Linked DNA regions of Homo sapiens: region 2 is linked to region 1. Evidence: fine-mapped expression QTL. A gene starts in region 1. The other region holds a variant in brackets. All regions are shown on one strand. Distances are between the middles of the regions. Region 1 holds the start of MOB2 (MOB kinase activator 2). Region 2 overlaps KRTAP5-3 (keratin associated protein 5-3).

Region 1 (5,200 bases):
TCTGCAGAGCCTGCTCCAGGTCTGCTCCTCTTCCCAGTGCAGTGTCTGTCGCTCAGTGTCTGTGGGTTCCAGCTGCCCCTCACCCTACCCCACTCCTGCCCCACTACCTAAGTTTTGATCAATAGGAATACCTGCTCCCTGCACGTGTCCCCCAGTGAACAAACACAGATGAATGTGGACGTTCCTCTGGCGCCAGCCCAGCCCTCTCGGGACAGTGGCATAAGCCACAGAGCTGCCGTGTGCTGACCAGACCCACTGGGCACACTTGGTGTGCTCCCCCACCCTACCGGGCACCTTGTCTTGACTGTTCCCCCGCCCCCGTGCCACCCTCACCACTGCCTTGCCTGGACCAGACTAGGCACGCTTGGTGTGCTCCCCCCACCCTACCCGGCACCTTGTCCTGACTGTTCCCCCGCCCCCGTGCCACCCTCACCATTGCCTTGCCTGGTTGCCTGGCTTCTTGTGCCCGAAGCCTCCACCATCCCCAGCTTCCTTTATGCTCTGCCCTCCAACCCCCAGCAGCTCATTCTCCCTGTCATGGGCCTCTGCACGGCCTTCTCTGTCCAGGCCATGCCTCCCGAGAGTGGGCAGGTCTGCGTCATGCACCTCCTGGTCCCAGCCCTGCTACTCACGGGGGCCTCCCCAGGCCTGGAGCCCGCTCTTCCTGTGGCTCCCTTTGCCACTTGGGTGACCTGCCAGCACCTGTGTCCCTGCTGTTGGTGGAGCCCCCGAGGGCAGACCGGCAGCCGTGAGCACGGTGCCTAGGTGCGTGTGGCACCACAGGGCTGTGGGATGGCCTTGCCAAGGCAGAGGAAGGCCTGTGGGCGCATGGACGTCCTGAGCCTCACCGGGCTGTTTGTTCTGTAGAGACCAGTTACGCACTGCTCAGAGCATGGCTTAGGGACTGGCCTAGTGGGGAAAATGAAACTGCAGCCTGTTGGGCCTGCTGCTGCTGCTGCTTAGGGAGGCGGGGGCCGGCCTGGGGCCATCCTCTGCTGTGGCTCCTGGAGAGTGTGTCTGTGCTGGGTTGGTGTGCTGTCTCCCCGTGCGCCCAGGCTGTGTGTGTGCGTGCAGTCCAGACACCACAACTCCCATGGGGGCTGGTATTGATGGGGGTGAGCCTACCCTGGCTGCTTTCCTGATGGCTCTGTGCTCCCCGCAGCAGCTGGTACCTCAGGCTGTGTCCTGACTCCTACAGGGCTTCACACCGACAGAGGTGCTGGGACAGCTTCTGAGGGGCAGTGGCTGGAGATGCTGGGGTCTCTTGATTGGCAGGAAGCACAGGAAGTATGGCTCCCATGCGGGTGGGGGATGCTCCTGATGACCCCGTGTTGTCAGGGGGCTGTCACTGCCAGTGGGGTCCACGCTGACTCAGGATGAGGAGAGAGCATTGCCCTCTCAGGTGTTTGCATTTTCAGGATGTGGTGGTCTCCTGTGTGCAGACCAGCCAGAAGGAAGGCCGGGGCCGTGCCGCTCTGTGCGCCCCCATGGGGAGCTGCTGTGGGCATTTCTGTTGGGCTGGGTGCCCTGTGGTCCTGGCTGGCAGCAGCCTCAGCCCAGCACCGTCCAGGCACCGCAGAAGCTGGTCGGCCCCTTCTCTCTCCAGGGCCATCCAGCAGGAAAGCCACTTTGAGTGCCTCCAGCTGCGTACACACTGCAGGGCAGGGCGGCCCATCTGTCTGTCCGTCTGTCCGTCCCTGGCCCGAGCACTGACTGGGCTAGGCTGGGCCGGACAAGGGAGAGGGGAGTGCCATCGACCTGGAGCTCGTCAGCAGAGTTGCTGCCTGTGTTCAGAAGGCCTTTCCTGGGGGCTTGGCAGCAGAGGACCTTGAGGTGGAGCCCAGGACCTTTCTGATGGATCCTTCTTGCAGGCCAAGGACGGCCCTGTCCCCTCCCTTCTGGTCCCACCCCCACCGCCTCTTCTGGCAGCCTGAGGTGGAGCCCAGGACCTTTCTGATGGATCCTTCTTGCAGGCCAAGGACGGCCCTGTCCCCTCCCTTCTGGTCCCACCCCCACCGCCTCTTCTGGCAGCCTGAGGTGGAGCCCAGGACCTTTCTGATGGACCCTTCTTGCAGGCCAAGGACGGCCCTGTCCCCTCCCTTCTGGTCCCACCCCCACCGCCTCTTCTGGCAGCCATGCCACTTGGAAAAGGCCAATTCAGACGCTCCCTCGTTTCACCAGCCTTGGCCAGCCCTTGCCTCTGGAAAGGGGGCAGCTGTTTGTCTCTGCCAGGCGTCCCATTGGCCAGGGAGTGAGGCTGGAGGGCCCGGCAGCAGGCATTTGCGAGTGCTGGCCAGCCGGCACCCCGCCCCGCTTCTCCTCCCCACCTTCCCGTCGCCCACTCATGCTGGGAGACCACTGCAGTCTCCCTGAAGACCAAGCCCGGCCCGGCCAGTCCCTGCAAAGTGGACTCTGCTGCAAAATGGTGCTTCAGGCTGTCAGCAAAGTGCTCAGGTAACACCTGCCAGCCTGGCTGGGGGAGGGGTGTGTAGCACATCTGTCTGCCCTGTTCTTGCCCCCAGGAAGGAGGTCAGGGTGGGGAGGCGGCGGACTGTGTCCGTGGCTGCCCTCCCAGTGTGGCCGGCGGCTGTGCAGCGAGCTGTGCTGGGCCACACGCAAGCTGTCCAGGGCAGAGGCGGCTGTGCAGTCCCGGGCCAGCCTGGCGGGTTTGCTCTGGAGCCCTGCCCAGTGGGGCTTTCCTTAGCCGCCTGCACTTCCTGTTGCTCTGTGGGAGAGGAGCGGGTCTTGGTGTCCTCGACCTTCGGGGTTGACCCCACCTTGCCGGCACAGGAGCCTGCCTTGTCCTCCCGCAACCCACAGGGTGTGGTTCCTCAGCCGCCAGCAGGTGTGCCTGTCTTTGTCCCAGCGTGCGGCTGTTTGTGCCCTGGGCAGGGGCTTCAGCCACCCAGGCAGAGGTGACCCGGAGTCTGTCCTTGTGTGGCCTTGTCCAGAGAAGTGGCATGGGGTTCCCGGGTGCCTATTTTTGTGCTGGCTGCCATAGGGATGTTGCCGGAAAATCCATTTTTGACATTTTTCTCACCTGTACTTTCTCTGACCTGCTGCGGGGGTGCCTCCCTGCCCACACCACTCAGCTCGGTGTGTGCAGGGGCGTGTGTGGGAGTGTGCGCCCAAGTGTGTGGGAGCGTGCACCCGTGTGTGTGGGAGTGTGCACCCGTGTGTGGGCATGAGGGGCCGGGGGAGTGGGGCAGGCACAGCCAGCTGCAGCAGTGAGTGTGTCCTCCCGGGTGGGGTTGCCTGGTGGGGGTGTGAGGCGAGCGTGGCCTGCTGGACGTGCCCTCCAAGGGCCGGGGGCTGCGGCACCCGTGTGCATCTCCGTGCCTCTGCCTGTCCCTGGGCACCCGGCTCCATCTTTCTCTTCATAGGCTCCTTCCCTATCTCCCGATCACCTGTGCATTCAACAGGGAGGGCTCCACAAGTAGACACAAGAGTGCCGGCCGGTGACCCTGCCTAGGATGTCCTATCTTAAGGTGAAACTGTGAGGTTTTGGAAATGTGTGGGCAAGTTGGCAGTACTCGTGAGTTCAAATCAGGAATGGTGCCTGACATCAGTGGTGTGAGGGGACTGGCGTGTGTGTGTGTGTGCCTGTGCCAGTGTGTGCTTGTGTGTCTGAGGCCAAATGCCGAAGGCAGCTCCACAGGAGACACAGAGGCAGGCCTGGAGCCCAGCCAGGCCCTAAGGAAGACGGGCGGAGTCCCTTCCCTGGGGCTCAGGAAGGTTTCAAAGGAAGCGATGAGGAAGCCACCTTGGCTGGGAGCTGGATGCATGGAGGGGCCGAGGCGCAGTGGAGCATGGTGGCCACGTGGGGCTGAGGTTCTAGGACAGCAGCAGCACCTGCCTGTTTGGACGTTTGGTCTGGGATGTCTGCGGGCGTTCCTTGTGCCATCTTGGCTTTTTCCTTCTCAATGGGCCTCTGCAGAGGGCACAGTAGGCTGGTAAAAGCTCGCTTTGTCTGGGGCTGCTGACCTGTTTGGGGGGGCAGACAATTAAACTCAGAAGAAAAGAAGCCACACTCCACAGCTTCCAGCTGGCTGAAGCCTGTGGGCAGTGCAGGCTGTGCTGAGAGATGGACAGGGGCTCCGGAGGCCTTCCCACCCCTCAGCCTGAGGCCGTGTGACAGAAGTGGGATCAGCACCCAGGGAGAACTCGGGTTAGAACACGGTGTTAGAAATGCAGTTTTCAGGCCCCCCCTCAACACCCAGAAGGCCACATCAGAAATGTAGGGGTGGGGGTGGCGCCAAGCACCCCAGCATGTGGTGCCCTCCCTGCATGTTGGGGTGACAGGAGGTGCCCGTGGCGTGCACCCTGGGCAGCAAGGTGTGCTGAGACCCAGGCTCTGTACCGGGTGGCTACTGGGGGCTCTGCCTGGCCGGGTCTTGGGGGAAGGGGTCACTGGGAGCCTTGACTTTCAGGCTCTGGGTGGACCAACCAGCACTGACATTCACCCGAACCAAGGAGCATGAGGGGCCCGGTGCAGATGGCTGAGTGGGGTCCAAGGACCATGCCCTCCTCAGAGGCGTCACCTGCGGGCCTTTCTCCTGCACCCCACACGCTGCCTGGTCACCGTATTTTCCAGGCCTGGGCTTGGGGACTTGTATTTCTGGGCCCCTCGTGCCTGCCCCACCCCTTGGCGTTGACCTGTGGTGGGAAGTGCCAGATGAGGGCCACCTCCTGCTGCTGCCCACTCACCTCAGGGTCTACAGGCTCGACTTCCATAGCAAGCGTGCTCTGGGCGAGTGGGGGTCTCTGAGCCTGGAGCACCCCATTCCTGTGGGCCGTGGGGCCTGGCCAGGATTCCATCCCTGTGATAATGAAGTTGACACTCGTGGCAAAGGTGCAGGGCACTCGGTTGTGCTGTCCTCGTCCCTCAGGGCGGATGAGGAGTGGGCGGCTCCCAGCCCACTCCCCAGCTCCCCCTGCCTGTGAAGCAGTGTGCACCTGCTGTGGGCAGGGTGAGACCCCCTGTGTGTTGACTGTGTGGTTGTCTAAGTTTTCCACGGGAGCCCAGCAGCTCTGATGCCTCCCTGTGCCCCTTCCCTTGCCCACCAAATTTGTGTCTAGCAGGGATTGCCTCACTTCCCAGTAGGGATCAGTTACGTGCTGGGTGCCAAGGAGGCCGACTGGCACGTCATGGGTACCACTGGCGAGAATGGGGAGGGTGGCATTTGACAGGCTCTTAAAG
Region 2 (5,200 bases), 120 kb before region 1:
TGCTGTAAGCCCTGCTGTTCCCAGTCCAGCTGCTGTAAGCCCTGCTGCTGCTCCTCAGGCTGTGGGTCATCCTGCTGCCAGTCCAGCTGCTGCAAACCCTGCTGTTCCCAGTCCAGCTGCTGTAAGCCCTGCTGCTGCTCCTCAGGCTGTGGGTCATCCTGCTGCCAGTCCAGCTGCTGCAAGCCCTGCTCCTCCCAGTCCAGCTGCTGTGTCCCAATTTGCTGCCAGTGCAAGATCTGAGGCTCTGCCCACAAACCTCAGTGGGTCCTACAGATCCGGGCTCTCCAGGAATGATTGCAGCTGTGTCCTGAATTCCTGAAGCACGTCTCTGAATCTGTCCTCCTCTGGACTAAGGCAGCCTAGCGTCCAGGGCTCAGTACTCAGCCGCTCAGCCTCTGAGGTCATGAGGGCTTCTGGCATGCTGGGTCCTGCCCATCAACCCTCCCGGAATCCCGTCTTCCTTTCCTGACCCCACCACTTCAACCTTCTCAGGGCTTCAAGATCCCACATCCCTGGGCCCCTCCTGTGAGCCTGCTGGAAACACGCTGACACTGGAATCCTCCGACCTGCTGCCGCCTCTCCCCGGTCCCCGCAACCTCCTGGCTCCTCCCCGCTTCGTCTTCATCCTGCCTGAGCTGCCACCGCTCCGATTGCTTTTGGAGTTGACCTAGAGGACTCGGAATTATTGGAGACCCCAGGATCCTCTCCTGAGGAGGAGGGGCGCCCAGTCTCCTCTTCTACCTCCGACCTGGCCCTGTTTCTTTCCCCAGGGCTTCGCCTTGTAAGTGCCTAGGCTAGATCTTCTAAATAAATACGATCTGCACCTCCCACGAGTTTGCATTGTGATTCTTTTGTTTCAACTTCTGTGTGATTAGAGAAATGTACACTTTCCACAGAGTTGCACTCCCAGGCATTTGGGAACCCCCCGTACCCTGCTGTGTGAGTTTGCTAGGGCTGCTCCACAAACCGTGTGGCTTAAGCAACAGGAGTGGATTGTCTCACAGTCTGGAGTCCGGAATCCGCCATCGAGGTGCCTCAGGGCCGGGTCCTCCTGAGGCCTCCCTCCGTGGCTTACTGATGCCGCCATCCCTATATCCTCACGTACTCATCCCTCTGTGTGTGTCTGCGTCCTCATCTCTTTGCATAAGGACACAGATTAGACTAGGGCCCACCCTACTCCATTAGGTCCATGTTTGAACTAATCACCCCTGTAAAGACCTATCTTCAAATAAGGTGCCATTCTGAGATACTGCGTTGAGGACTCCAACATATGAACCAGGGGGCACAACTCAGCCGTGGCATCCACTTGGCTTGGGGCGTCTCCGTCTTTCCCATCTTCCAGGATACAGAATTGGGAGGCCCCTTGGGCTTCTCTCCCCCACAAGTCGCCAAATCCCTCAGCATCTCCTGGAAGGCTTCCTACAGACATCTATTTCCTGCCTCCTTGTGACACCTCCCTACACAGACTTCTGATTCAGGTGCCCACCTGTCCCTTCCCTGCTGCCTCTGTCAGCTGGGGCTGCCAGAACAAAACCCACAGAGTAAGCCTGGAAGACGGAACAACAGACACCATTTCTCCCAGTTCCGGAGGCTGGAGGGCCTAGACCAAAGTCCAGCATGTTCGACTCATGGGGAGGGAAGGCAGGAGCTGGCGGAGGAGGAGGTGGGCTGCAAGGCTGGAGCCCCCAGACCCAGGCGTCTGTAACAGCAGAGCGCTGGAGGCTGCTCGGGAAGCCACCGTCTCACAGGATGGTAGGCAGTGAGTGCCTGGCGGAACTGCGACAAGAAAGTGAAAACTCAACAACACGGAAGTTTCAGAAATTGCTTCTGAGTTTCTGTTTCGGTAGTAAGGTTGACTAGACACTATTCACAACCCTGAAACTTCTAAAAGGACATGGTGAAACCCCGTCTCCACTAAAAATACAAAAATTAGCCAGGCATGGTGGTGGGCGCCTGTATCCCAGCTACTTGGGAGGCTGACGAAAGAGAATTGCTTGAACCCAGGAGGCGGAGGTTGCAGCGAGCCTAGATCGCACCACTGCATTCCAGCCTGGGCGACAGAGCTAGACTCTTTCTCTAAATAAATAAATAAATAAATACATAAGTAAGTAAATAAATAAAGCTTTAAAGTGCTATGTTTAAAGCATATATATTTTTTTTAAGTCACTGAGCTGTTGAAAAACTAAATAATCCTCAGAGCCAACAAGCAAGAGAGAGCTGGACCCACAGAGGAAGGTGAAAGTCAAAAACGGCCTCCACCCCATGGCTGGACCAGAAAGAGGCCCTGTCTGTTTTCTTCCACCTGTGTTATTGGAAAAAAATATTTGACAAGGAAACATACACCAAACCCAGCTCTTTTGTTTAAAAGCCAATTGCAAAAACACAGAACGAGTGACCTGGTTTAATGGTGGCTAAGAAC[G/A]ATAGAAAAAGGGCCTGGTCTATCTGAGTTAAATTTGAGCTCAGGATGAGGCTAGGGTGTGGTGTTGCTGCCGAAATCCACTCTGTGGTCTGAGGGTGGATTCGTAGCCACACGGTGTCCAACTCAGGGGTGAATGAGCCCCTCCCCATCAGCCCATGCTAGTTCCTTTAATGGACTTTTTTTTCAGAGCAGTTTTAGGTTCACAGCAAAATTGAGAGGAGTGGGCCACAACATCCCCCGTGCTCTACAATGAGAGCACTTCCTCAGAGCCCAAGACAGTAGGCCACTCTCTGGGGGTCCCCAGGGGCTCAGGGTGTGGCTGGCCTGTCCCCAGCTCAGGAGAGACCAGGAGTTGTCTAACAGTTCCTTCATTGGAAGTCTCTGTGGATGCCTCCCACGGACCTGAATGTTGAGGGCCCATGATTTCTACAGTACATTGAGGAGCCGGGATGCAGGGCCCCTATTTCCTCTATGTGTGCCCTGGACACCCCAGGCACAGGGGACAGGCCTGGCCCTGCAACCCCACCAGGGTCCTGACACCAGGCTTGGCCTGGCCTTGTGATGAGCAAGAGAAGAGGCAGGTCCAGAGACACCTCCTGCACGGGATCGCCTGCTTCCGACCCCCATGACAGGCAGTGGCCAGCATGGTGTGGAAGGGGCCAGGATGGCACACGGCAGGCTGCCCTGTAGCCCCAGATGGCTCCTGGCCTCAGGAAATTAATATCCACTGGAAAACTCATCACTTGGAGGCTGCCAGAGGGAAGGGTGAGTGTCACGTTCCTGCAGCCATGGCCAGCCAGCAGCATGCCCTGTGGCCTCTGGCCCAACCTGTGGGACAGGGACCCCAGACAGGGCACAAGTCCCAGTCCCAGAGGGTCCTGGCCTGATGCTAACCCAAGCCCTGTCAAGGGAAGGGCATCAGGGGCGCCATGGGCACCCAGCAGCAGCCAGGAGGATCACACAGGGGACTGAGCCTTCTGTGGCAGTGGCCGGACCCAGAACTTAGCCAAAAGCAGGGCAAGCCTCCTGGATCAGAGCGGGTGCTGCTGCCTGTGCATGCCCAGCAAGGCTGAGCCAGTGATGCTACCAGGGTCCATGAGGCAAGGGTGGGGCAGGAGCAGGCTGACCAGCCGCCAACCTCGTCCACTCCAGGAGGCAGGGATGGCCAAGCTCCCACGCCCTCGTGGCCGCCACCTGACCACCGATGGGGCAGAGGCCTGAGGCCAAGCAGTCAGTGCTGGGGCCCTGCTTCCAAGGTCTACAAACTGCTCCAGTCCGGAGGGCCAAAGATAATTGGGCACGTGAGGGCCCAGGAGGTCAGTTCCCTACGTCTGCCATCCTTGGCAGGTGCATTTCATGGTCAGAAAAAGTCAAGAAAGGTGACACCTCTCAGGTGTTATTATGAAGGACTCTCCCAAGACACATCTTTTTTTACATTTATTTTTATTGTACATATTCATGGTGGACAACATGGTGCTGTGGTAAACATGTACACTACTGAAATGATGGCTGCAATTAATATCTCCAACACCTTCCATGGTTCCTTTTTGTATGTGTGTGTATAAGTGTGTGTGCATGGGTGTGTTTGGATAAGTGTGTGTATGAGTGTGTATGCATGTGTATGAGTGTGTGTGTTTGTATGATTATGTGTGTATGAGTGTGTGTAAGGTGTGTTTTTAATTGTGTGTGAGACTGTGTGTATGTATGTATGTGTATGAGGGTGAGTGTGTGTGTGTATGTGTGTGTATGAGGGTAAGTATGTGTGTACGATGTTAGTGTGTGTGTATGTGTGTGTGGTAGGAGCACCTGGAGTCTTCTCTCAGCACACCTGCCACACACAACACCTGACTGTCACCTGTAGTCCTTGCACTGTGCACTGGACTGCTCGGCTCCCTCTCCTACACAACCGCAAGCCCTTGACCTCCTCCTCCCCCTTTCCTTCTTCCTCCAGACCCTGGTAACTACTGTTCTATTCTATGTTTCTATGTATTTGACTTTTTCAAAATGTGGAATATATGCATACATCTATACGTGTATATATGGAATATTCTTCAGCTTTCAAAAGAAGGAGATCTGGTTACTTACAACAACATGTACAAATCTGGAGGACATTACACAGGGTGAAAAGAGGCAGACACAGAAAGACAGACATCACACGCTCTCCCTCACACATGGAGTCTACAGGAGTGAAACTCACAGAAGCACAGAGTGCAAGCATGGGAACCAGAGGCAGGGAAAGGGGAAATGAGGAGGTGCTGGCCCAGGGGTCCAAAGCTTCAGTTCTTCAAGATAAATAAGGCTTGGAGACCCAATGCATAGCAAAGTGACCACAGGTAACAACACGGTGTTTATTATGTACTTAAAACGTACTGAGAGGGTAGATCCTACATGTTCTCACCACCAAGAAAAGAGAGAGAGAGAGAGAGAGCTATGTGAAGTGGCAGATGTCTTAATTATCTTGACTGTGGTGATTATTTCACAATGTAGACATATATGAGATCATCGAATTGTATGTCTTAAATATACACAATTAAAAAACAATAAAAGCCACCCCCAGTGCCAGGCCCCACAGGCACCCCCACCCAACCCTCCTACTTGCACATACAATGTATAAAAAATAGATGCGCATACACAATTGGGTATTGCTACCAATTCGGATTTTATTATCCACATTTCTTTGCAACTTAATTCTTTTCACTAGAACTTGTATCATGGTTGCCTCTCCTAGGAAGTAGATCTGGGTATAAGTCTATGTTTCTTTACGCGCATGCGTATTCATAT

The links. PIP is the estimated chance that this variant, and not a neighbour inherited with it, causes the effect. A credible set is the group of variants that fine-mapping cannot tell apart.
Region 2: its variant is the best candidate, but not a certain one, in a credible set for the expression of MOB2 in whole blood (INTERVAL, PIP 0.68).

The regions. Positions count from the first base shown.
Region 1 is chr11:1,483,701-1,488,900 of GRCh38, reverse strand. MOB2 (MOB kinase activator 2) reads left to right here and starts at 2,122. Exons shown (of 5, transcript NM_001172223.3): 1 at 2,122-2,454. The coding sequence starts at 2,345.
Region 2 is chr11:1,602,709-1,607,908 of GRCh38, reverse strand. It overlaps KRTAP5-3 (keratin associated protein 5-3), which reads left to right. Exons shown (of 1, transcript NM_001012708.2): 1 at 1-344. The coding sequence ends at 240. Among named protein-coding and RNA genes, the nearest start is that of KRTAP5-3, 3.2 kb to the left of the region's middle. The variant G/A (reference allele first, on the strand shown) is at 2,420.